Linked DNA regions of Homo sapiens. The protein of the gene in region 1 binds, or shares a complex with, the protein of each later gene. Each region holds a gene or a part of one and is shown on either strand. Other genes may lie near its edges.

Region 1 (12,895 bases):
TATCTTGATTGTGGTGGTTTACTGCACTTCAGTTATACCCCAATAAGATTAAAAAAAAAAAGAAGAAGAAATAAGTGCAAAGGAGTAAATATATAAAAATCCACTCATTTACCCAGAAACGAAACATAATCATACACCCATGTTGGTCACCATTGAAACTTCCTTAGGGCACAACTCATTTCCTTAAAAATTGTTAAAGGATCAAGCATTTATCCTGCCTTTTCTTTATGAACTGTATTTCAAGGTAAACAAACAGCTGATGAGACAATGCCTTTTTTAATAGGTGGATTCCAGGTAATAAATGCAGAGAGAAATGATAAAAACAGAAAATCGCCACTGTGCAAGTACTAGTGAAGTAATGGACCTGGGCAATTATCACTAGGTGCTAAAGCCGTCATGTGAAAGGTTGATGAGGAATCAGGGTGATACTATTTTCGCCAACTTGTCAATCTTAGAACAGTAGAATATTCAGACATTATGATGTAATGAAATAGGAAGTAAACTGAACCTGAATCTAATCAAGCCACTAGATCAGAGCAGTCCAGTATATATACATACATATACAAGCTACAAGCTGCATATGTAATTTAAAATTTTCTAATAACCACATTTAAAAAGGTAAAAAGAAACTGTTGAAATAAATTTTAATATCTTTCATTGAACCCAATATATGCAAAATACTATCATTTCAATTATAACCAAATTAAAATTAAGGAGATATTTTACAATTTTCATATTAACGTTTCCAATTCTGGTGTGAATTTTACACTCACCGAACATCTCAATTCTGACAAGTCATATTTTAAGTGCTCAACAGCTACGTGAGGATAGTGGCTATTATGTCACAAAATGCAGCTCTAGGGATGAGGACAGTTTACAGAAGATACTTGAGGATACAGGAGCAAGTTAAATGGCAGTTTAAGAAAGCAAATCCAGGATGTGGGAAACTCCACAGAATAGATGACCTGGTTTCTCCCTTCACTCATCCCTCCAAAATAGAAATCAATGGCAGAAAGAAAAAAGAGGGAGGCTGTTGTAGCATAAAATACTTAAGGGACATAACAATAAAAACAGTGTAGGGTTTTGTTTGAATCCTGATTCAACTACCAATGATCAAAAAACATCCGAGACAACTGGGGACATCTCACTGCAGATTCAGTATTTAACGATATTAAGGAATTATTGTTAGTTTTGTTGGATGACATAAATACTGAAATATTTAGGGAGAAAAAACAACTTGCATTTGATTAAAAAAAAAAGATGTAGGAATAGACTGATCATGACTTGATATTGGTGAAGCTGAGTTATGAGTACATGAAGCTCTTCATACTGTTTTATATATAAAATACATAGTTTGACAATTCTCATAAAGTTTTTTTAAAAAGTACTCACTGGCTGTGCACAGTGGCTCACATCTGGAATCCCAACACTTTCAGAGGCCAAGGTGGGAGGACTGCTTGAGGCCAGGAGTTTGAAACCAGCCTGGGCAACATACTATGAGACACCCGTCTCTACAAAACATTTTTAAAATTAGCCCGATATGGTGGTGTGTACCTGTACTTCTAGCTATTCAGGAGGCTGAGGTGGGAGGAATGCTTGAGGCCAGGAGTTCGAGGTTACCATAAGCTGCTAAGCACCAGTGCACTCCAGCCTGGGTGAGAAAATGAGACCCCATCTCTAAAAGGTAAAGAAACTATTTTTTTAAAAAGCATCCACTTGATCTAGAATACTAAATAAAGGGCAAGTTCCTCTGAAGTTCCATGATTTGCCCTCCTATGTTACACAGATCAGATGAGAATCACACTATGCATAATGTTAGTATGGCCACTGCAATCAGGCAAATAGGATTTTTTCTCTTTTTTTTTTTGAGATGGAGTCAAGCTCTGTCGCCCAGGCTGGAGTGCAGTGGCACAGTCTCGGCTCACTGCAACCTCCACCTCCCAGGTTCAAGCCATTCTCTTGTCTCAGCCTCCCAACTAGCTGGGATTACAGGCGCCTGCCACCAGGCATGGCTAAATTTTGTATTTTTAGTAGAGATGGGGTTTCGCCATGTTGGTGAAGCTGGTCTCGAACTCTTGACCTCAGGTGATCTGCCAGCCTCCGCCTCCCAAAGTGGGATTAGAGGCGTGAGCCACCACGCCCGGCCAGGATTTTTTTCTTAAAAATATCTAGAAGACCTTGCTAGAAGTGTTGGTAGTAAACAAAACCCTTTAAGCTACTAACGTTCTCCTGTGTTTTCTTATTTCCTTTCTCTAATATTCATTTCCTAATATAATGAAATGTAAATTAGATTTTTATTTCCTCTTTTCACTTTGGAAGGCTGTCAAACAGCTTACCCCAACTAACCTGCAAATAAAACTCATTTTATCCTAGCAAATTTGAGGTAAAGTATATACTAACATGGTAAATTATACATGTATTGTCTTCATAATATCATAGTTGCCCATTCAAACACTCTAGCAACTATTACTTCCTGTCTTGAAAGAAATAAAAATAATTGGTCCTCCTTTCTTATTTTCTCTGAAAAGCTTCCCCAAACTCTCCCAATCCAACTTAATGCGAGTAGACTATTTTTCCACTTTGTTCCACTCATTTCGCACTCCTGATAGAATTTTCTCTTATCCCTCTAATCTCTTATTTAGGCTTATGTACCCTCTCCAGAAGTTCTGTGTTGTGTCACTTACTTCCCCACAGAGATCTCTATCTCAAGGAGACCAATTCAAATGATATTCAAATATATACCTCCAGTCCTGGTCTCTCTCCAAAACCCTATTAAAACTACCCAGTGGACATTTTCCTACAGACATACTAGCATCCCTTCACATTGTCTCAAGCCAAATTAATGTTATCACTATATCAAAACCTCTGAACGTCCCTGTTTTTTTCACCCTGACATGCAAATTAAACATCTCTTTTGACTTCCTTTCCCTTGTTTTCCTTAATTAATGAAGGCCTGTCCATTTTTTCCTTAACATGTTCGTACCTTTCCATTCCTCTGCCACTGCCTGAGTTGAGGTTCTTTTCATCTTTACAACCAGATAACTAACATAATTTCCTAATTTACTTTCTCACTGTCTATCTTCTTTCCCTATACTATTATAGTACTCTGCCAACCACTGCCAAATTAATTTTCCTAAACTATCATTCTACTTATCCAATCACCTTGTTCAACAGGGTTTTAAAAATGAAATCAAAACTCCTCTGCTTGATATTCAAGGCCCCTCATGTTCTCAAATCAATGTATATTCCCAGTCTTATCTCTTGTAGTCCCTAAATGAAACAGTTCCTCTTGCTCAATTTATGCTCCTAAAAACAAACAAACTTGGCACCATTAACAACACAATTTCCTTAACTCAGAATATTCTCTTGTATATAAATAAGCCTTCCTGAAAGTCAGAAATAGGATCTCCCTTTCTTGAACTTTTATAACACTTAATTGTATATATCATTCATTTTAAGTTAACGACCTCCTCACCTATACTGTAACTCTTTAATGGGTACCTGTTCTCTTTCCCTACACCGAAAATTCCTTGAGAGCAAAATCATGTCTAATTTAATTTCAAGCATCTATTGGGTATCTGGCCCCACAATGCCAAGAGTATATTTTGTTGATTGTTAATTAATCATCTTACTTTATTTAATACAAGTAATAGCTTTTCCTTGTTCTACTATAAACAGATCTGTACACTTTCTGGTGGCTGTATGCACCAGTCTAAACATATGGGTAGGGTCCAGTAATTTTTAAATTTTTTCTCAATAAACTCACGATAGCTACCATTTATTAGTGATAGCTAGCTAACCACTGTTAGGCACTTTACACGTGTATCTCATTGAATCCTCATATCCACCAGTGGTAGGCACTATTATCTCCATTTTACGGAAGAGAAAACTACTACATCTTGGAGATTAAATGTCTCTCCCTTCTCATGTTATTATCTGCCCTTTCCCCTCCAAATCAATTCATATCATTTTTTCTAAACCTTTTCACCTTTTACTCAACTAATCATTCGTTTTGTTTATTAACGACTATGTGCCAGGTGTTGTGCTGATGCAGGAGACAACCGCGAAGATGGGGACAGAATCAGTAACATCGACGTAAGGGAATTGAAGCAGAAGATCACGCTGCCTGCAGACACCAGGAAACGCCAAGACCCCCCTTCCACGAACCAACATTCTTCCACCCTCTCCAACTTTTTTCTGGAACCCCTTCACTTCCAACGCCACTCAATGTACACTTCACTTTCTCGTGCTCTTCCTAAGAGAGTAGTGTTTTCTTCCTCCCCACCGAGAAAAAAAATAAAAGCAACAACTGGAACTTCTTCCTTACCCTGCCTTGTCTGCAGACCCTGGAGGCCCCTTCCATTTCCCCTTGTCCTTTTCCTTGTCTTTTTTGGTTCCCGCCGCAGTGGTCGAGTCGCCCTCGAACACGCTGAACAGCTCATCTCCGAATGCGTCCGCCATTTTTGGGAGCAGTGAGAGCAAATCTCCCTCCTACCCACGATGCCCCGCGACCGAAGACAGTGACGTCTCGTGAAGGCTCAACAGTGGCCCGCAGGAGACAAAAGTAGTCGAGTCGCGCAGCCGACAAAAATGTTCCCCTGACTTTTTTTTTTTTTCCTGCTTTTCTTTCCTTTCCTTTCCGACCTAAAGTGGATAAGCTGCTCAGTGGATAAAGAGCGAGGGCGGCGCGTGGCGCCTGGCGTGTGGCAGGCAGCTGGCGACTCAAGGAGGCGGAGCCTGCTGAATTCGACCAATTGCGAGGCAGCGGTCGCCCCGGCCCGAGAAGCCCGGATCGAAGCGCAGGGTGGCAGCCCCGGAGCCGGGGAATGTGAAGAGCTCTCGGCTGTGCAGTGGTACCGTCGGGGCCTGGGCCGCGAAGGATCTTCTGCCACAGCTGCAACATGGGCGGCAAGAACAAGAAACACAAGGCTCCAGCGGCCGCGGTGGTCCGGGCCGCCGTGTCTGCTTCCAGAGCCAAATCTGCCGAGGCTGGAATTGCCGGGGAGGCCCAAAGCAAGAAGCCAGTGTCCAGGCCGGCCACCGCTGCCGCTGCCGCTGCCGGCTCCAGGGAGCCCCGTGTCAAGCAAGGTACGAGAGGTCCCCCAGCCCCTGGCTGTCTGCCCTGAGACCTTGCTGCTTGTCCTGAGGAAAGGGCCTTAGAACCCGGGAGGAGCTTCGGGCCCAACATTTCTATTTCCCAACACTCGAGCTGCTACCTCCCCATGGGGTGGCCTTGTTTTAGATTAAAAAAGTCTAAGCTCTTTGGGCCTCCAAAATTCTGACAGTAGCCCTGTTGCAGCCTGGCATTTCTCTTTTAACTCACACTTCTCCCCCTTCTAAAAACAAAATAATTGCATTAGCTCCTGTTTCAGCAGGAATTCATCCTGAGCACCATCTCAGCTAGCTAGGCTAACGCAAAGACGAGTACTGAGTGGAGTTCCTGACCTCCTGGTGCCAGCCAGCCCCATTTTCTGTCAGTTTTTCATATCATTTTCAGCAACAATCTAGTGTCTCCATGCGTTCTGGAAAAATCAATACTTAATAAAAATTACAGGACTTACACACTGGTTACACACTGGTTACGTGTAATCTATTGTAAAATTGTCTGCCCTCGTTTCTGCCGCCATGCAGTTTTGCTTACTGTACAAATTGATTTGACAACTCAACTTATAGATGGCCGATTCCTGCTGCAGATGAGCAGGCCACATATTACGGTTGAGCTCAAAAGATGAACAATTACATTCTGTTGTGTTCTTCTCGGGTTGTTTGCTTGTACTTATTGGAGTATTCAAGAAATATTTGCTGAGCATTTATGTGTATATATGCAAATATTTAGTATGTGTCTGATAAGATGTGAGGAATGTGATGAGCAAAAAGAGACATCACCTCATGGAGCTTGCCAGTCTAATGTCAGAGATAGGTATTAACTAATAGGTAACGCACACAGACATATTTATAGCCTTATAATAGATAAGTGCCACAAAGAAAAGCCAGGGAAGACAGTTTAACAGGGTAATCTAATTTTTCTCGGGATGAGCAGGTATCATGGATGGTGTCTGGAAATGTAACAGTTAAGCTGAGATGAGGAGAATGAAAAAGGAGTTAACTCTGTGAAGCATGGCAGAAATTAGTATTCCAGGCGGGCGTAATGAACATCATGTGTAAAAAGTTTGAGTCAGGAAAGAGCTTGGGGCTCTTGAGGAATTCACAGAACATAAAGCATCGCCAAAGGATGAAATGAGATGAGACTGAAAAAGTAGGCAGGTACCAGACCTTTACCTAGAAGGTGGAAACAGTTCTTTGCCCTGCGATTTATTGTAGTGTTAGCTACAGAGTTAGCATACTTGTAATTACAAATACATAGAATTTCTCCCTGACAACTATGGCAGTTTTATTCTGTGGATCAGCCTCTTTTTTACTTTTCCTTTGTCTTTTACTGACATTCCTCTGAATTTGAACCGATAGTCATTTGTTGTATTCTTTGAATTCCCTTTCCTCCAGCCCCAAACTGTGACCCTTTCTCAAGGTGTCAATCCTTGACAGTATAGTTCACTCCTAAAGCCCTTCTAGGAGTGTTCATCTATTTCCATTACTTCTATCTTTTCCTTTGTAGATGGCCTCTCTTCCAAGCTCAAGTTGGCAATTTATACATTTTGCTGGATTCTCTGACCCTATTTTTTGCAAGCATCTCAAATTTAACAGGGCTAGTACTAAACCACTCTTCTTTCCCCAAACTAACTTTTTCTTCGACTTCCTTGTTTCTGTTTTTCCATATTTCACTTTGCATTTGTGTAGTTCACATCCTAGTCTTGGTACCTGTGAATTCCTGGAGTAGCAACGAAGTCTTTTAATAGGGCTCCACAGCTGTGCTCATTTTGCTTCCTCCAGTTGGTCTTGCATATCAACATCAGACTGATCTTCCAGAAATGCTGCTTTGGTCGTAACACTTCCTATTTTCTTCCATGGCATCCTCACTGACTTTGCAATAAAATCCAAATCATTTAGCTAGCTTCTAAAACCCTCTTTCTAACCTTTTAATAATTCCTCTATTCAACTATAGCAAGTCTGGTGTGTTTTCATTTCTCCAAATGGAGCTCTTAGCTTTCTCCTTCCTCGTATTTATTCTTGCCATGTTTTTCTTCATGGAGTGCAATCTGTCCCTAACATCATCTACCAAAACCTTAAAATACCCATTTCAGATAACAACTTCCTTTTGAATTCTTCCTGCTATTCACAACTGACGTATCATAGTTGTTTAAATCATTCTTTTTGATAGTTAGTTCTTGCCTTATGATATGTAAAGAATTATATGTTTTATATATCCAACAAAATTACAGGAGGTAGGAACAGTTTTATGGATATGTGTTAACATTTCCCCAGTATCTACTCTAGTGCTGTGCATATTGTCATGAAGAAAATTACTTGGATAACTGGTAAGGAAAGTTCAAAGGAATTATTAAGACCAAGAAATCAAGAGAAAAAAACTAGAGGTTATCTACTAAATTTGCACATAACTTTTGGGTTTATTTTAGGGTGCTTTTAATATATAGTATAACGTACAATAAACCTATTTTGGAGAAAAAAGTGGAAAAATGCTCAACTCTGTGTAGTTCCTAATGTAGATGTAATGGTTCTACTCTACTTCCGTCCCTCCTTATCTTTCCAATTTGACGGCACAGCTGGTCAAAATTGTCCTCTATCGTAGAGGTTCAGAATCACCAAATGGCTTGCACAACAAGTAATACCAGTCTTGTTTTTTTTTTAATTTCATTTGCTCATGAAAGAATTTCTGAAGAGGCCGAATAGGGAGGAGGGTGGGGAGAGGTTCAGTATTAAATAGGATGGTCAGGGAAGGAAGGCATCATATAAGAAGGTGGCTAGGCGCAGTGGCTCACGCTTGTAATCCCAGCACTTTGGGAGGCCGAGGCAGGCGGATCACGAGGTCAGGAGATTGAGACCACGGTGAAACCCCGTCTCTACTAAAAATATAAAAAATTAGCTGGGCATAGTGGCGAGCGCCTGTAGTCCCAGCTACTCGGAGAGGCTGAGGCAGGAGAATGGCGTGAACCCGGGAGGCGGAGCTTGCAGTGAGCTGAGATTGTGCCACTGCACTCCAGCCTGGGTGACAGCAAGACTCGGTCTCAAAAAAAAAAAAAAAAAAAAAAGTGACATTTGAGCAAGCAAAGGAGGCAGGTAAAGTAGTTACACAGATGACTGGGTAAAGAGTCTCCTGGGGAGAGGGAACAGAAAGGCCTTGAGATGCAAGCCTGGAGTGTTCTAGAAATAGCAAGACCTTTCCCCATCTTTCTTTTACTGTCCTTCTCTTTGCCTTTCTTTTCTTTTCTTTCTTCTTTCCATTCCTGTGCTTTAGAAGTGCCACTTCCTTAGCCTAAGTATAATTAAGCTGCTTTATCATGTTATGACTGAGACCAAAATAAGAGGTTCAGTAATTTAAGTTTTCTCTTCCAACCAAGAGGCTTGTGTTTCTGAAAATCCTTGAACCTAGTTGAGGCTTAAAATTTTAAGAGGGGAATAAGAATTGGGAATGGATGTCATAAATTTATGAAAGCCATTATAAATTTTTTTTTAGGGTCACTAAAATAGAAAAAGTGCTATGAGGAACAGAAAATAGTGACTTGGTAAACATTAAATGGAGAATGGAGGGTCTATTTTGGTTTGAAATAGGAATAGCTTCCCTTAGAAAACATTTAAACTGAGATGATCTGCAGAGTATTTGTGGCAGAGGGAAAAACAAGCCTAAAAACCCTAAGGTGGAAACAAGTTTGACATGTTGTAAGAAGATAGTGCTGTGTGGCTGGAGCGAAGAAAGAAAAAGTTAAAATGTGGCTGGAAGTCTGGGAAGGAGCCAGAGCAAGTTCAATGGGAAGTGGGGGCCGGTGTTGGTATTAAGTAGAGGAGAAACTTTAGCTGGTTTACATTTCAAAATAATTAGTCAGGCGGCCCTGGCAGTGTGTACTTCCTCACAGGCCTTAATTGCTCAGACTACATCAATTCACCCTCATCTATTTTCTTGGCACTCTGCACTTCCCCTTTATTACTCATCTGAGTATTAGTTGCTTACTAATTATATTACTGTTCCAGAATATAAGCTCCATGAGGACAGGCACTGGGTCTGTTTACCACCAGAGTCCCTGTTTGGGTCCCTTGCCTGATTAACCATTCTGCAGATGTACACACTGTCGATCAGAAGGGAATCAGAGTGCTAACAACTCAAAGTCAATGTCTTAGTCATAGTGGGTCATTAGCATTGCTTTTTCCTTTAAAATACAGTATAAAAAGAATATGTAGCAAAAGAAAAGATTATTGGGCAATAAGAAACTGATTCTGGTTGATTTTTTTTTTTTAATTAGCTGAGTCATTTTGAGGAAATCAGTTTGTCTGTGCTTCAACTTTAATGTAATAAATATTTTTGAGAGCCAGCTATATATGTTGCATCGTTCCATGACCTTTCATTTATAAATTTGGAATTCATAATACTTTGCCTTGGAGATATTGCATACTAACATCCTTACTTCCAGTCAGATTTCCAGTAACTTCCACCATCTTAAACACAAAACCAAAAATTGTAAAAGTCTCCAGGCAATAAGGAAAGTAGCTGTCATAAATCTTATGCACTTTACTTGGCAAAAGTGAACGTGGCCCAGTGAATGTTGAGCAGGATTCCTTGATTTCTCTGATCATTTTTCAGAAACTCAGCTCTTTTGTTTACCCTCTGGAAGTTTGCAGTATAAGCCAACTTCAAGGAAGTGATACAGTTGAAACTCTTAGGTGAAATGTTTGGAGGAGACAAATGAGAATTTTACTTTAATCTTTTCAACTGGGTAAATTAAAAACCAACCAGTTTTTTTTTTTTTTTTTTTTGATAGGGTCACTCTGTCGCCCAGTGGCTCACTACAATCTCTGCCTCCCAGGCTCAAGCAATCCTCCCATCTCAGCCTCCCAAGTAGCTGGGATTACAGGCACAAGCCACCACACCTAGCTAATATTTTGTATTTTTTGTAGAGATGGGGTTTCACCATGTTGCCCCGGCTGGCATTTTTAAAGGAATTTACAGTCTTACTCTTGTCAGTAGCATATGAACTTTGAACTGTTTCTCCATGTAGTCTTGGTAATGTACTGCTCATCTATCTGTAACTTTTTAAAAGGGTTATAGCTGGGGCCTCTTGATGTGTTTGGGGACCTCTAAAACTGCATGCTAAATTTGTGCACAAGCTTACTATAATTGATAAGACTCCCCAGAAATAGTTAAAGACTACTAAATATATACTCTCCTTTATGACCATTGACATGAATTTATAGGAGAGATTACTAGAATTAAGGTAAAGTTTGAGACTAGACGATAAGGAAACTAACAATACTATACCAGACTTGTTATTATCTTTTTACATATGCCATGTAGCTTTGGGTACCTCCGATATAACTATAGCATAGCAGTAATTGACAGAGAACCACAAATGTTTCTCTTTCAGACTGCCCAGATGTACAAGTTAATTTCAAGTAGTTATTCTCAAAAACTTTTGTTCTTTTAAAATATCTAATTATATTAGCTACCATCTTAAAATGAAGAACCTAATGTAACCCAGCAGAGAGCAAAGTCTTTGACTTTAAAATCATAAGAACATTTAATGTTTAAATGTCTCAAAGTAGAAAAAATACTTCTTATTTTAAGGTGTATAAAAACCATGCAACTAGATTTATGATTCTGGAATCATTCTTGTTTTTTTTTTTTTTTTTTTTTTTGAGATGGAGTTTCACTCTTGTTGCCCAGGCTGGAGTGCAATGGCGAAATCTCGGCTCACTGCAACCTCCGCCTTCTGAGTTCAAGCGATTCTCCTGCCTCAGCCTCCCGAGTAGCTGGGATTACAGGCATGCACCACCACGCCTGGCTAATTTTGTATTTTTAGTAGAGATGGGGTTTCTCCATGTTGGTCAGGCTGGTCTTGAACTCCTGACCTCAGGTGATCCACCTGCCTTGGCCTCCCAAAGTGTTGGGATTACAGGCGTGAGCCACCACGCCTGGCCTGGGATCATTCTTATACAGCAGTGTTTCTCAAAGTGTGCTCAGGAGGTCCTAAGGAACCTGAGACTTGTTTGCCAAGGGCTCCATGAAGTGAAAACTTTTCATAATAATTCTGAGATGTTTTTGCCATTTTTCACGCTCATTTTCTCATGATTATGCAGTGAGGTTGTCCAGTTGGCTACATGATGTGTAATGTTACGGCAGATTGAATGCAGAAGCTAGATGTTACGAACTGAATGTTTGTGTCCTCAAAAAATTAGTATGTTGAGACCCTTACCCCCAGTGTGGCTATATTTGGAGATAAGGGCTCTAAGGAAGTACATAAGGTTAAATGAGATCACAGGGATGGGGCCCTGATCCAACAGGATTAGTGTCCTTATAAAATGAGATACCCAAGAGAGCTCAGTTTCTCTGAGTAAGCACAGAGAAAAAAGCCATGTGAACATATAGCAAGATGATGGCCACCTACATGCCAAGAGAAGAGGCCTCAGAATGAAACCTCCCTTGCTGGTACCCTAATCTTGGACTTCCCAACCTCCAGAACTATGAGAAATAAATTTCTGATGGTGAAGCCATCCAGCAGTCTGTGGTATTTTGTTGTGGCAGTCTGAGCAGACTAAGATACCAGATATTAAAGAGATTTGCAAAAACGGATATTATTTTTTGTCTTGAAAAATATAGTCACATTTCATCTTAAGCATCATTTATATTAATGGAACAGGTTTATTTTTATTATTTTGTTGAGGTCCTTTTGTTTTTTTGAGACAGAGTCTCGCTCTGTCTCCCAGGCCAGAGTGCAGTGGTGCAGTCTCGGCTCACTGCAACCTCTGCCTCCTGGGTTAAAGCAGTTCTCCTGCCTCAGCTTCCCAAGTAGCTGGGATTACAGGCATGCATCACCAGGCCCAGCTAATTTTTGTATTTTTACTAGAAATGGGGTTTTGCCATATTGGCCAGGCTGGTCTCAAACTCCTGACCTCATGTGATCTGCCCGCCTCCGCGTCCCAAGTGCTGGGATTACAGGCATGAGCCACCACACCTGGCCTATTATTATTATTATTAGAGACAGGGTCTCACTCTGTTGCCCAGGCTGGAGTGCAGTGTTGCAGTCACAGCTCACTGTAGCTACTACTGCAGCCTTGAACTCCTGGGTTCAAGCAGTTTTCCTGCCTCAGCCTCTTGAGTACCTGGGACTTCAGACATGTGCTACCACAGCTGGATAATTTTTGTAGAGGCAAAGTCTCACTATATTGCCCAGACTGCTCTCAAACTCCTGGGCTCAAGAGATCCTCCTACCTCAGCCTCCCAAAGTGCTGGGATTACAGGCATGAGCCACTGCGCCTGGCCAGATTTATTATTTTTGGTGAATGAATGTTTTAAAATTTCCCTTTTAATTTATAATATACTAAGTATCAATAGACATAACCCACATAAACAAAAACTATTTGGATCCTCAGTAATTTTTAAGAGAGTAAGGGGTCATGAGACCAAAAGTTTGAAAATAATGTGTGTTGTTTCCTGGTTACTCATTGTTAAAGGACTGAGACTAGACAGCGTTTCTGTTCACTGGAACAGACTTGGCAACTGTAGTGGGTTGAGTGAGTAGTGTCCCCCCAAATATTCATGTCCACCTGGAACCTCAGAATGTGACCTTGTTTGGAAATAAGCTCTACAGATCTGTGGATCTTGAGATGAAATTATACTAGATTTAGGGTGATTCCTAAATCCAATAATGAATGTCAAGAGAAAGGAGAGGGACATTTGGACACAGAGAAAGGGAAGAAGGCCGTGTGAATGAGGAGGCAGAGACTGGTGTTATGCTGCCACCAGAAGCTGGAAGGGGGAAGGAACGATTCT
Region 2 (12,613 bases), on another chromosome or scaffold:
GATCTTACCCAATACCAAACTTTTAATGAATCAAAGGATATGGGATGATCACCAGACACAGAAGAAATATTCTTTTTTTAGAGAAGTCCAAAATGTTAGAGAGTCCAGCTCCAAAAATGGCCCTTTTCTCTCTCGGTGCACTTTGGATTCAAAAAGGACAAGTTTCTTTCTGAGCGTTGTATGTGGAGACCTTGTTCAAACAAAGGGAGTCATTTGATTTTGCAACATCTCCTTTTTATACTTCATTATGCAGTTTAAATGAGCCCTCATTCTCCAGCCAGTCATGCCTCATGAATCCACAAATCCCAAGTTTTACAATAAACCATCTATAAAGACCAAGTATATCTTGCTAAAAGCATTTTAGAGATAAGGACTTTACATTTTCTCTCTGGTAATATCAGCACATTTTAGAGGAAATTTGATTGAGTTCATTGATTCCTAGTAGAGAGGGAATGGGTTATATAGGCCTGAAGTTAGCCTTTTCTTGCCCAGCTGACATTTCTTAGTAGTTCCATATTATGAAATACCACACATTGAGTGACTTAATCAGAATTTATTTTCTCACAGTTCTGGAGGCTGGAAGTCCAAGACCAGGGTGCTTGTAGGGTTGGGTTCTTCAGAGACCTCTCTCTTTGGCTTATAGTTGGCCGCCCTCTTGCTGCCTCTTCACATGGTTGGTCCTCTGTGCGTGTGCAGCCTTGGTGTTCCTTTTTTTATAAGGACACCAGTCATGTTGCATTAGAGCCCCACTCTAACAGCCTCATTTTAATTCAATCACCTCTTTAAAGACTTTATCTTCAAATACTGTTACATTCTCAGGTACTGGGGGTTGGGACTTCAACATAAGGATTTGGGGAAGGTAACAATTCAGCCCATAACAGCTGGTTCAGGGGCTATCCACTTGGATTTAGGTACTCGAGATAAGATGGCGACCTTCAAGGTCTACTTGGCATTATGCTGAGGCAAGGTAGGAATGTTAACTGTATTTGCTTTCTACCATTTTTGTAACAAATTACTACAATTTAGTGGCTTAAAACAACACAAATTTGTTATCTTACACTTCTGGAGATCAGAAGTCCAATACAGGTCTCACTGAGCTAAAATCAAGGTGTCAGCAAGGCTGCTACGTTCCTTTCCAGAGGCCCTAGGGAAGAATTGTTTCCTTGCCTCTTCCAGTTTCTAAAGGCTGCCTCCATTCCTTGACTTATGGCCCATTCCTTCATCTTCAAAACCAGCAACAGTGGGTCAAGTCCTCTCCATATGCATCTTTTTGCCCCTCCTCTTCTGCCTCTTCCACTTTTAAGGACTCGTGTGATTAGATTTCACCTACGCACGTAATCTAGGATAATCTCTCCATCTCAAGGTCAACAGATTAGCAACATTAATTGCATCTGCAACTTTTATTCCCTGTTGCCATGTGAGATAACATAATTCACGGATTCCAGGGATTTGGACATGGACATCTTTGAAGTTCATTAGTCTGCCTACCATGATTATAGAAACACCTGGCTTCTCAGACAGACTGACACAGAGTAGCAGTATTGGCCATGGTCAGGCTTCTGCAGCTTTATATTAATGTACCCTGAATTCATAAAATTGACACACTAAAAAAAAGCTAGGTAAAGGAAGTGCAGGATGCTGTAGGAATATGTAGCAGGGTTGCCTAGGGATTAGAGCAGACCTTCTAAGGAAACAATTATTAATCTGAGACCTAAAAGGGCAAGGGAGAAGGGTAGAATAGAATGTATAGAAATTCGGAATTAGAGGCACTCAAAAGTTCTGTATGACTAGAACTTAAAAAGTAAGAGAAGAAGAAATAATGTGAGGCTCAAGAGATAAGCAGGAGCCAGATCATCAAAGGCATAATAAATCATATTAAGGAATTTGAATTTTATACCTCTGGGGTTTTCCCCCACAGTCCCCAGTCTTTATTTCCTTTTTTATCCAGACTGAACCTCATGGCCCCATAGTTGATAATCTGAACTTCTCTCTTAGAAGCACCCGCAACTTCCTTATATTTTTCCCTTATTCTGCACCCACTGAGCAAAAAAAAAAAAAAAAAAAAAAAACTCCAATCCTGGATCATTTTGGTTAATGATTGTATGCAGTCAGCTATTGTATGGAAGAAATGTAACCACCCAGTGGATTCACCTTGCTCTGTGGAGACAGAGCCAATTTATCAAGACAGGAGAATTGCAGTAGAGAAAGAGTAATTCATGCAGAGCCAGCTGTATAGGAGACTGGAGTTTTATTATTACTCAAATCAGTCTCCCTAAGCATTCAGGAATCAGAGTTTTAAAGGATAATTTGGTGGGGGGTCGGGGGGCGGTGAGTCAAGAATGCTGATTGGCCAGGTCAGAGATGAAATCATAGGGGATTGAAGCTGTCCTCTTGCAATGAGTCAGTTCCTGGGTGGGGGCCACAAGCTCATATTAGCCAGTTTATTGATCTGGGTGGTGCCAACTGATCCATCAAGTGCAGGGTCTGCAAAATATATCAAGCACTGATCTTAGGCTTTATGATAGCGATGTTATCCCCAGGAGCAATTTGGAGAGAGTCAGAATCTTGTAGCCTCCAGCTGCATGACTCCTAAACCATAATTTCTAATCTTTTGGCTAATTTGTTAGTCCCACAAAGGCAGTCTAGTCCCCAGGCAAGAAGGGGATTCATTTTGGGAAAGGGCTGTTATCATTTTTGTTTTAAACTGTAAACTAAATTTCTCCTAAAGTTAGTCCAGCCTACACCCAGGAATGAACAAGGACAGCTTGGAGGTTAGAAACAAGATGGAGTTGGCCAGGCACGGTGGCTCACGCCTGTAATCCCAGCACTTTGGGAGGCCGAGGTGGGCGGATCACGAGGTCAGGAAATCATAGACCATCCTGGCTAACATGGTGAAACCTCGTCTCCACTAAAAATACAAAAAATTAGCCGGGCATGGTGGCGGGCACCTGTAGTCCCAGCTACTCAGGAGGCTGAGGCAGGAGAATGGCGTGAACCCGGGAGGCGGAGCTTGCAGTGAGCCGAGATCTCACCACTGCGCTCCAGCCTGGGCGACAGAGTGAGACTCCGTCTCAAAAAAAAAAAAAAAGAAACAAGATGGAGTTGGAGTTGGTTAGGTCAGATCTCATTGTCTCAGTTACAATTTTGCAATGGTGGTTTCGAAAACCATATAATTATGCAAACTGATACCACTGCAAATTTATATTTTCTAACCTCAGCTAAACCCTCAGTACCATTTGTCATTTGATCCGTCTCCTATTTCTTTAATAGTTTTATTGAGATATAGTTTACACGCCATACAGTTCACCATTTAAAGTGTACAATCTAGGCCGGGCATGGTGGCTCATGCCTGTAATCCCAGCACTTTGGGAGGCCGAGGCAGGTGGATCACCTGAGGTCAGGAGTTCAAGACCAGCCCGGCCAACATGGCGAAACCCCGTCTCTACTAAAAATACAAAAATTAGCCGGGCATGGTGGCAGGAGCCTATAATCCCACCTACTCATGAGGCTGACGCAGGAGAATCACTTGAATCTGGGAGGCAGAGGTTGCAGTGAGCTGAGATTACGCCATTGCACTCTAGCCTAGGAGACAAGAATGAAACTCTGTCTCAAAAAAAAAAGTGTACAATTTACTGTTTTGTTTTGTTTTTATTTTTTTTGAGACAGTGTCTCACTCTTGCCCAGCCTGGAATGCAGTGGCACGATCTCAGCTCATGGGTTCCAGTGATTCTCCCTCCTCAGCCTCCCAAGTAGCTGGGACTACAGGTGCACACCACCACGTACGGCTAATTTTTGTATTTTTTAGTAGAGACGGGGTTTCACCATATTGGCCAGGCTGGTCTCGAACTCCTGACCTTGTGATCCACCCGCCTCGGCCTCCCAGAGTGCTGGGATTACAGGTGTGAGCCACCGCACCCAGCAATTTAATGTCTTTTAGTATAGTACTTACAGAGTTGTGCAACCATTATTATAATGTAATTTTAGAACATTCTCACCATCCTAAAAAGAAACTTTATACCCTAGTCCAAGCCACAACTGTCTTTCGTTCGGACTGTTACAGTAGCCTCCCGTGTGGTTTCCATTTCCACCCTTGCCCCCTACAGTCTGTTCTTAACACAGAAACCAAAATGATCTATTTAAAAACCTACTGAAAGGCCGGGCGCAGTGGCTCATGCCTGTAATCCCAGCCCTTTGGGAGGCCAAAGCGGGTGGATCACTTGAGGTCAGCAGTTCGAGAACAGCCTGGCCAACATGGCGAAACCCCGTCTCTACTAAAAATACAAAAATTAGCCAGGCACGGTAGCGCACACCTGTAGTCCCAGCTACTAAGGGAGGCTGAGGCAGGTGAATCACTTGAACCTAGGGGGCGGAGGTTGCAGTGAGCCAAGATCGCGCCACTGCACTCCAGCCTGGGCAACAGAGCGAGACTCTGTCTCAAAAAAAAAAAAAAAAAAAAAAAAAAAAACCTACTGAAGATTCAAGTGATCTGGCCTCCTTACTTCTCCAATCTCATCTCTTCAAATTCTTCCCTTGGCTCAATGCATTCTAGCCACACTGACCTTTCTTTTCTTCCTTCCTTCCTTCTTTCCTTTCCTTCATTTATGTCCTTCCCTCCTTCCTCCTTTCCTTCTTTCTTTCATGGGGTCTCACTCTGTTGCCCAGGCTGAAATGCAGTGGCACGATCATAGCTCATTGCATCCTCAAACTCCTGGGCTCTAAGGATCCTCCTGCCTCAGCCTCCCAAGTAGCTGGGACTACAGATGTGAACTACCATGCCTGGCTTTTTTTACTGTCGTGTGTTTATTATTTTAGAGATGGGGGGGTGGGTCTCGCTATGTTGCCTGGGCTGGTCTCGAACTACTGGCCTCAAGCTCGATCTTCCCATCTCAGCCTCCTGAGTCACTGGGATTACAGGTGGAAGCCACTGCACCTGGCTTCTTGCTGTTTCCTGAATATACCAAGCATGCTTCCACTCAGGGCCTTTGCCCTTGCTGTTCTCTCTGCCTAGAACACATTTCCCCCAGATGTCCACCTGACTCACTTCCTTCCAAGTGATTAAGATGATCAGTCAGATGGGGGAACCATCCTACAGTAGAGAAATGAAGCCTGATATTTTTTTTTCCTCTTTGAGGTTTTATACTGGGTAATTGACAGAAACTTTTTATTTTTAAACATTTAGAGTTCCGGACTCTTAGAGTCTAACTACTTACCATGTACTAGGCACAATTGCTAATTGAATGCATTATATCAATTTAATTCCTGCAACAACCTAATGTAAGTACTATTCTTTTTTTTTTCTTTTTTTTTGTTCGTTTGTTTGTTGGAGATGGAGTTTCACTCTTGTTGCCCAGGCTGGAGTGCAGTGGCGCGATCTTGGCTCACTGCAACCTCCGCCTCCTGGGTTCAAGTGATTCTCCTGCCTCAGTCTCCCAAGTGGCTGGGACTATAGGCGCCTGCCACCATACCCGGCTAATTTTTGAATTTTTGAGTAGAGATGGGGTTTCACCATTTTGGCCAGGCTGGTCTCGAACTCCTGACCTCAGGTGATTCGCCCACTTCGGCCTCCCAAAGTGCTGGGATTATAGGTGTGAGCCACTGCGCCTGGCCGGTTAGTACTATTCCTACATCCAATTTACAGATGAGAAAACGGAAGCTTGTAAAGAGATTAAAACTTGCCCAAGAAAATAGAGTAATAAGTTACTGCAGAGCTTGAATTTGAACCCAGGCCTCTCTAACTCCAAAGCTCAAGTTCATAATTATTTGACCTTGGAGCAAAATTTAAATAAATTTCATAAAAAATCCTTTCATCCTCAATTATGTAAATTGAAAAATATTGCAGATAGAAAGAGAAACCCAGAACTTTGAGTCCCCCATTATCTTTCAATTTCACTCTAAGAAGTGCATCTGTCATTGGGTTTCTCAATATCAGCTCTGCTGATGTTTTGGGCTGGATAATTGTTTGCTTGTATGGGGGAGGGGAGATTGTACTGTGCACTGTAGGATGTTTAGCCGCATCCCTGGCCTCTGCCCACTAGATGCCAGCATCACTGCCCCCCTCCTCAAGTTATGACAACCAGAAACATTTCTGGTTGACGCTGCCAAATGTTCACAGAAAAGAACCACTATATTAGATGATGATACTTTATTTCTGTCTTCTAAGTATGTGCAAACCCTGGTGTTTGTGGAAAGGTGATTTATTTAAAATAAGTTTACTTGGTTTAGTCAAAATAAGTTTACTTAGAAATAAATCTTGTAGAGTACAGCCCAGCATTAGCCAGCTGTATTAGTTTGCTAGGACTGTCATAACAAAGTACCACGTACTGAGTGGCTTAAACAACAGAAATTTATTTTCTCATTGTTCTGGAGACTGAAAGTCTAAAATCAAGCGTCAACAGGGTTGGCCTCTCTCCTGGGCTTATAGATGGCTACCTTCTTGTTCACGTGGTGTTCTCCCTCTATGCCTGTGGCCTAATAATATCTTCTTGTAAGGACACCAGTCAGATAAGGGTCCACACTAATGACCTCATTTCAATTTAATCACGTCTTTGAAGAACTTATGTCCAAATACAGTCACATTGAGTTACTGGGGATTAGAACGTGAACATACGAATTTTGGGGGGGACACAATTCAGCCCATTAACATTGAGCTTAAGTCTTTTCTCCCCTCCCTCCCTTCCTTTCTGTGTGTATTGAACACCTATTATGTGCCAGACATTCAGCTAAGTGGGGGTAATGGTAAGCAACAAACATGGTCTCTGCCCGGTAAGGTTTACAGTGAGGTAGGACAGACAGACTTAAAGAGTAATAACAAGTGCCATGCAAATATTATGCTTTGGTAATGGATGCCAGGAAAGCCTTGCCCTTCCCATCAGGCTCCCAACCCGGCTGGGCGAGTGAAAGGACTGCGTTATGAGCTAACCGGCTGGGCACGGTGGCTGACGCCTGTAATCCCAGCACTTTGGGAGGCCGAGGTGGGCGCGAGTTGAGGTCACGAGTTCGAGACCAGCCTGGCCAACATGGTGAAACCCCGTCTCAACTAAAAGTACTAAAATTACCTGGGCATGGTGGCACATGCCTGTAATCCCAGCTACTCGGGAGGCTGAGGCAGGAGAATCGCTTGAGCCCGGGAGGCGGAGGTTGTAGTGAGCCGTGATCGCGCCACTGCACTCCAGCCTGGGCGATAGAGCAAGACTCCATCTTAATAAAAAAATTAAAATATTGGCCGGGCGCGGTGGCTCACGCCTGTAATCCCAGCACTTTGGGAGGCCGAGACGGATGGATCACGTGGTCAGGAGTTCAAGACCAGCCTAGCCAAGATGCTGAAACCCCGTCTCTACTAAAAACACAAAAATTAGACGGGCGTGGCGGCACGTGCCTGTAATCCCGGCTACTCCGGAGGCCGAGGCAGGAGAATCGCTTGAACCCGGGCGGCAGAGGTTGCAGTGAGCCGAGATCGCGCCACTGCACTCCAGCCTGGGCGACTCTAGAGCAAGACTCCGTCTCAAAAAATAAAATAAAAATAAAAATATACATATTTTTTAAAAACTGAGCTAACCACGAGGTTAACGAGTCAGCCACTTGTGAAACCGGGAGACGCGCGTTTGCTACAAAGCAGCAGAGGTCTGGTCTTAACCAGCAGCAAGCGCCACCTCAACCCGCCCTTTTCTATGACGCAGAGTCTCTCCCCCTCCCTCCCTGACTCCGCCTTTTCCCTGCTTGAGGCCCTGCCCCTCGCGTCCTCTCTGGCTTGCTGCGCACCCTCCCACAACGCGTCTCCCTCGGCTCTAACAATAGGAGTCAGTCGGCCACGCCTGCGTCATAAAGCCTGGGGGCGGGCCCAGCCGGCGACGGGAGGCGGGGAAAAGCGACGCAAAGAGTCGCGGCGCCATTTGCTGCCGCCGAGCGTGGACGCAGGCGGATCTCTGAAGAGCTGGGTCGCCAGCCTCTCCCGCGCACGTTGCCTGGCCTCCAGCACCTACTTGGTCCCGCGCGCTCCCTCGTGTCGCCCCTCGGAGCAGCAGCCGCCGCGGTCGCCGCTACCCGGAAAGAAGTCAGAGACGCCGCGAGGTCGCCGCCACCGCCATGCCCAAGAATAAAGGTAATGCCGCCCGGACCCCCGGACCACGGCTCTGCTCGGCCGGGTCTCCCAGGTCCTGCCCGTAGATTGCAGGTCACCCAGGCCGCAGTGACCCTTTTTCCTTCCCGCCCTGCCTGCCCGCGGCTGGGCGCCCCACACGCGACTCTGAGCTCGGGAGAGGAGCTGGGAAGTTAACTCCTGTTGCCCAGTTTGGTCACATTGGGGTGGAGCCGGCGCCATTTTTGTAGGGCCTCCTGCGGGAGAATGTGGGCTTTTGCTCCTGATTCGCGCCAGACTGACCGCTGCTCGGTGGGGACGGTGGCGGGAACCTTCCCCGGGGCGGCCTAGGTTTAGTAGATAGGCCCCTTTGGCCTTCCCGGGCATGAGGGGTTATAATCCCTGGAAGCCGTTCTGAACTTTCAGAGTGCTGTCTGCATTCGTGAGCACCAGGTACTCCTGCATGGGTTTCTTTATGGACAGTTCAGTATTGTTGAGGCTACTCGCTGTCCCTTGTGAACAGTGGGTGAAACCTTGATACATTTCTAAGGCTCACCTCTAGAGATTTACTCTCTCCATCCCTTTACAGGATATAGCTTATGTTTGTTTGCTGAAGACTTATTCCATATTGAGCCAAGTTTTCTACTTTTGCTTCAGATGATGCATATGTTGTGAGAATAAAGACCTAATTTAAGTGTCCTCCATTCTGAGGCTAAGCGTTCACAAATGATCAGACTTGAGGATAACTTTATTTGGGATTTCCAAAACGGAAGGCCTAATCTTAAAAAAAAAAAAACAAAAACAAAAAACAGAACACTCCTAAAGAAATTACTTTTATAGATTTACAGTGTTCCTGTCATTTTTAATAGCCGTATAACTTGAAGAAAATTGTGCAAGTAAATATAGGGAAAATACTGTATTTTCCTACAGGAGAGGAGCATACTTCATAGTCCGTAAGTAGTCTCCTTTGATTATTCATTCTAGAGGAAACCCTCCCCTGACACAGGCCTACTTCTGCTCTCTTTTCTACTTGACAGCTGGCTCCAGGGATTCTACCACATTTCCTCTTTGTAGCTGTCACTTATTACTTTATCCCTTAGGGTACTTGGTCGAGGTGTTCTGTGCACAAGTTGGTGCAGTCACTGCTCATTATTTTGGAAAAGATGGAGTTATAAACAAAAAATTTTAAAGTCTTACAGTTTTCTTCTGTATAATCCTTTATTCTCTCTGAGGTGGTAAGGGGATCACTTCCATCTTATTCTCACCTTTATTTCTAGTAATAAGATTTCCAATTCTTCCACCAGGCTGTAAGCTCTACAAGGCAGGAATAGTATCTGTCTTAATCTCATTGGATTGCCAGCACTTGACAATTAGTAGATGCTTAATAAATATTTGTTGGTTTAAGTCACCTACCTCCTGTCGACTCCACCCTTAGTGAATAATAGGTTCTGCTTTGGTTCCAAGGGGATAGGACTTCTACACTAAATCACATCTAGTTCCCTAGCCTCATGTCTTAAGAAAGAGCCTCTCTGGGAATTTCTCCAAAACAACTCTGGTTTAAAGAATGTTGATGTCACTTTAATTGTTGTACACTCAGACCTAGTCTCATTCATTCAACAGAGAATTTAAAGAACATCCCATTACATGGCAATAAAATACAAAGGGGAGTGATCCGGGTATGGTTAATTCTGGTAAATTGACAAGTAATTAGTCTTTTCTTAAATAACATTTGAGGCATACAAAAAATACAGCTAACATGATATACCTGGGAACCCATTACTCTGAATTTAAGAATTACAGCGCAGATTGAGGTAAAGCCCTAATCACCTTTTACTCTCTTTTTGGAGGTAATCACCAGGCTGAGTTTGGTGTTTATCATTCCTGTACTGTCTGAAACCAATCAGTTCTTAGTTATCTTACTTAGAGGAATGGTACTTTTCATGACCTAATTTAAGTGTCCTCCATTTTTTTTTGCTGCTTCCAAGCTCTTCCCATGAGTCTCTTAGGGTCATTACCACTTACAGCCTTTTTCCTGCCTTTTGGAAATGGCTGCCAATGTGGTTTCCTTTCTGGAATGGGAGCAAAATGCTGTGGAGAGGTAAGCTTATGTGGGGGCTAGGGGCAAAAAAAACATTGTGACTTTGGTCACCCCAGCTTACTGACTGTAATCAGTGAACTGATTTACTCACTGAAGCTAAGCGACTTACTTAACTTCTCTGAGCTTCAGGGAACTCATGGGTAAACTGGGAATAAATGAATGTTATGACCTCATGGGGTGATTGTGACAAGTAAATGGGCAGAATTATTGCATAGTGGTTAAGAGCATGGTCACTGGGGTCATATAATAGAAACAGGGATGTTGAGTAGGGACCAGCATTATAAAAGAAAGTAAATTGGGTACCGAACAGATCTTCTTTATTTTTTAAGAGACAGTGTCTCGCTATGTTGCCCAGGCTAGCCTGGAACCTCCTGGGCTTGCTCAAGTGATCCTCCCACCTGAGCCTCCTGAGTAGCTGAGACCCTAGGCGCACACCACTGCACCCAGTGAGATTTCAATATTTATGGTACTCTGCTACCAAAAGTTTGAAAACCACAGTTCTCTGTCCAGACACTGTCTTCACTTAATTTTGAAAGTATCGGGTTCCTTGCATAGGGCCTGGCTTTAGAAGACACCCAAGATTTCCGCTTAGAAGAATATGTATAGAATTGCATTTTTATTTCAAAAGGATGGGTGCTAAAGTGAAATGTTTTTCTATATTTTTTAACATAATATCTGCTATTTATGTGTATTTTATGTCAGAAAAATCCCCAAAGGAAATTCCAAGAAGGGTAGGGAGGTGATAATGTGTTAATGTTGGGATTGGAGATTGTAAATTTAATATGATTGTGTAGCTAAAATAGATGAATTTTTTAATTTAAGTGATCTTTTAAAAAATGGTTTTATAAGCCTTAATTTCATTTTATTTCATACTGTTTTACAGATAATTAATGTCATTTACCTCCTTTTCTTTTTTTTAAACCATCAGGTAAAGGAGGTAAAAACAGACGCAGGGGTAAGAATGAGAATGAATCTGAAAAAAGAGAACTGGTATTCAAAGAGGATGGTCAGGGTAAGTGTTTTCATAAATTACGCTTTTTAAAATAACATCCTTTCTTTTTTAGCTGGGGACTTTATTTTTTTGAGACAGCGTCTTGCCCATCGCCCAGGGTGAAGTGTGGTGGCACGATTACAGCCCACTGCAGCCATGACCTCCTGGGCTGAAGCAGTCCTTCCACTTCAGCCTCCCGAGTATTTGGGACTACAGGCACACACCACCACGTCTGGCTAATTTTAAAAATTTTTTTAGGCTGGGCGCAGTGGCTCACGTCTGTAATCCCAGCACTTTGGGAGGCCAAGGCGGGCGGATCACGAGGTCAGGAGTTCGAGACCAGCCTGACCAACATGATGAAACCCCGTCTCTACTAAAATTACAAAAATTAGCTGGGTGTGGTGGCACGTGCCTGTAATCCCAGCTACTCAGGAGGCTGAGGCAGGAGAATTGTTTGAACCTGGGAGGCGGAGGTTGCAGTGAGCCGAGATCACACCACTGCACTCCAGCCTGGGTGACAGAGGGAGACTCTGTCTCAAAAAAAAAAAAAAAAAAAAAAAAAAAACTGTATAGAGATGAGGTCTTCATATGTTGCCCTGGCTATTCTCGAACTCCTGGGCTCAAGTGATTCTCCCACCATGACCTCCCAAAGTACTGGGAACTAAGAATGTGTCGTATAGTTCAGAGGGAATTGAGCTATGGTTGACAGTTCTGTGATTTAGTTGGCAGTTCTATGATTAGCATTTCTGGTAGTGAATGGTACATATAATATGTTGAGTAGACCATGGACATTTGAAGGATGAGCCTGAGGCCCTTATAGACCTCTCCATTCTCCAGTGCCATTAGCATATAACTTCGTAAACTACAATAAAATGAAACTGAACAGTTAACTGATTTTATTAGACTGAAGAATATTGTAAGTGCCAGACCAAGATACATAGCACTAGTCAAATAAATCCTAACTGGATCGTTTGCCCTTTCCTGTTACTTTTATTTCGAGTCATTTCAAACCTACAGAAAGTTGCAGTATTAGTGCAACAAACTCCCTTAAATCCTTCATCTGTACACACACATATAAAGAAATATATATGTGGGATTTTTTAATTTTTTTTTTGAGATGGAGTCTCGCTCTGTCGCCCAGGCTGGAGTGCAGTGGCGCGATCTCGGCTCACTACAAGCTCCACCTCCCGGGTTCACGCCATTCTCCTGCCTCAGCCTCCCAAGTAGCTGGGACTACAGGCACCCGCCACCATGCCTGGGTATTTTTTTTGTATTTTTAGTAGAGACGGGGTTTCACTGTGTTAGCCAGGATGGGTCTCGATCTCCTAACCTCGTGATCCACCCGTCTCGGCCTCCGAAAGTGCTGGGATTACAGGCGTGAGCCACCGCACCTAGCCCCATATGTAGGATTTCTTCAGGACCATTTGAAATTTAGAGACATCATGTTACT

Evidence for each region.
Region 2: DHX29 (region 1) and EIF1AX share a complex: the UniProt entries of both Homo sapiens proteins name them as parts of the 43S pre-initiation complex.

Annotation. Positions count from the first base shown.
Region 1 is NC_000005.10:55,299,580-55,312,474, reverse strand, and holds the start of DHX29 (ATP-dependent RNA helicase DHX29), read left to right. Parts: upstream 1-4,780; 5' UTR 4,781-4,901; coding exon 4,902-5,088; intron 5,089-12,895. Other genes in the region: MTREX (exosome RNA helicase MTR4), read right to left, coding at 4,328-4,461. UniProt on the Homo sapiens protein: ATP-binding RNA helicase involved in translation initiation. Part of the 43S pre-initiation complex that is required for efficient initiation on mRNAs of higher eukaryotes with structured 5'-UTRs by promoting efficient NTPase-dependent 48S complex formation.
Region 2 is NC_000023.11:20,137,110-20,149,722, reverse strand, and holds the start of EIF1AX (eukaryotic translation initiation factor 1A, X-chromosomal), read left to right. Parts: upstream 1-7,884; 5' UTR 7,885-8,082; coding exon 8,083-8,098; intron 8,099-9,278; exon of another isoform or gene 9,279-9,388; intron 9,389-9,487; exon of another isoform or gene 9,488-9,755; intron 9,756-11,100; coding exon 11,101-11,184; intron 11,185-12,613. UniProt on the Homo sapiens protein: Component of the 43S pre-initiation complex (43S PIC), which binds to the mRNA cap-proximal region, scans mRNA 5'-untranslated region, and locates the initiation codon. This protein enhances formation of the cap-proximal complex.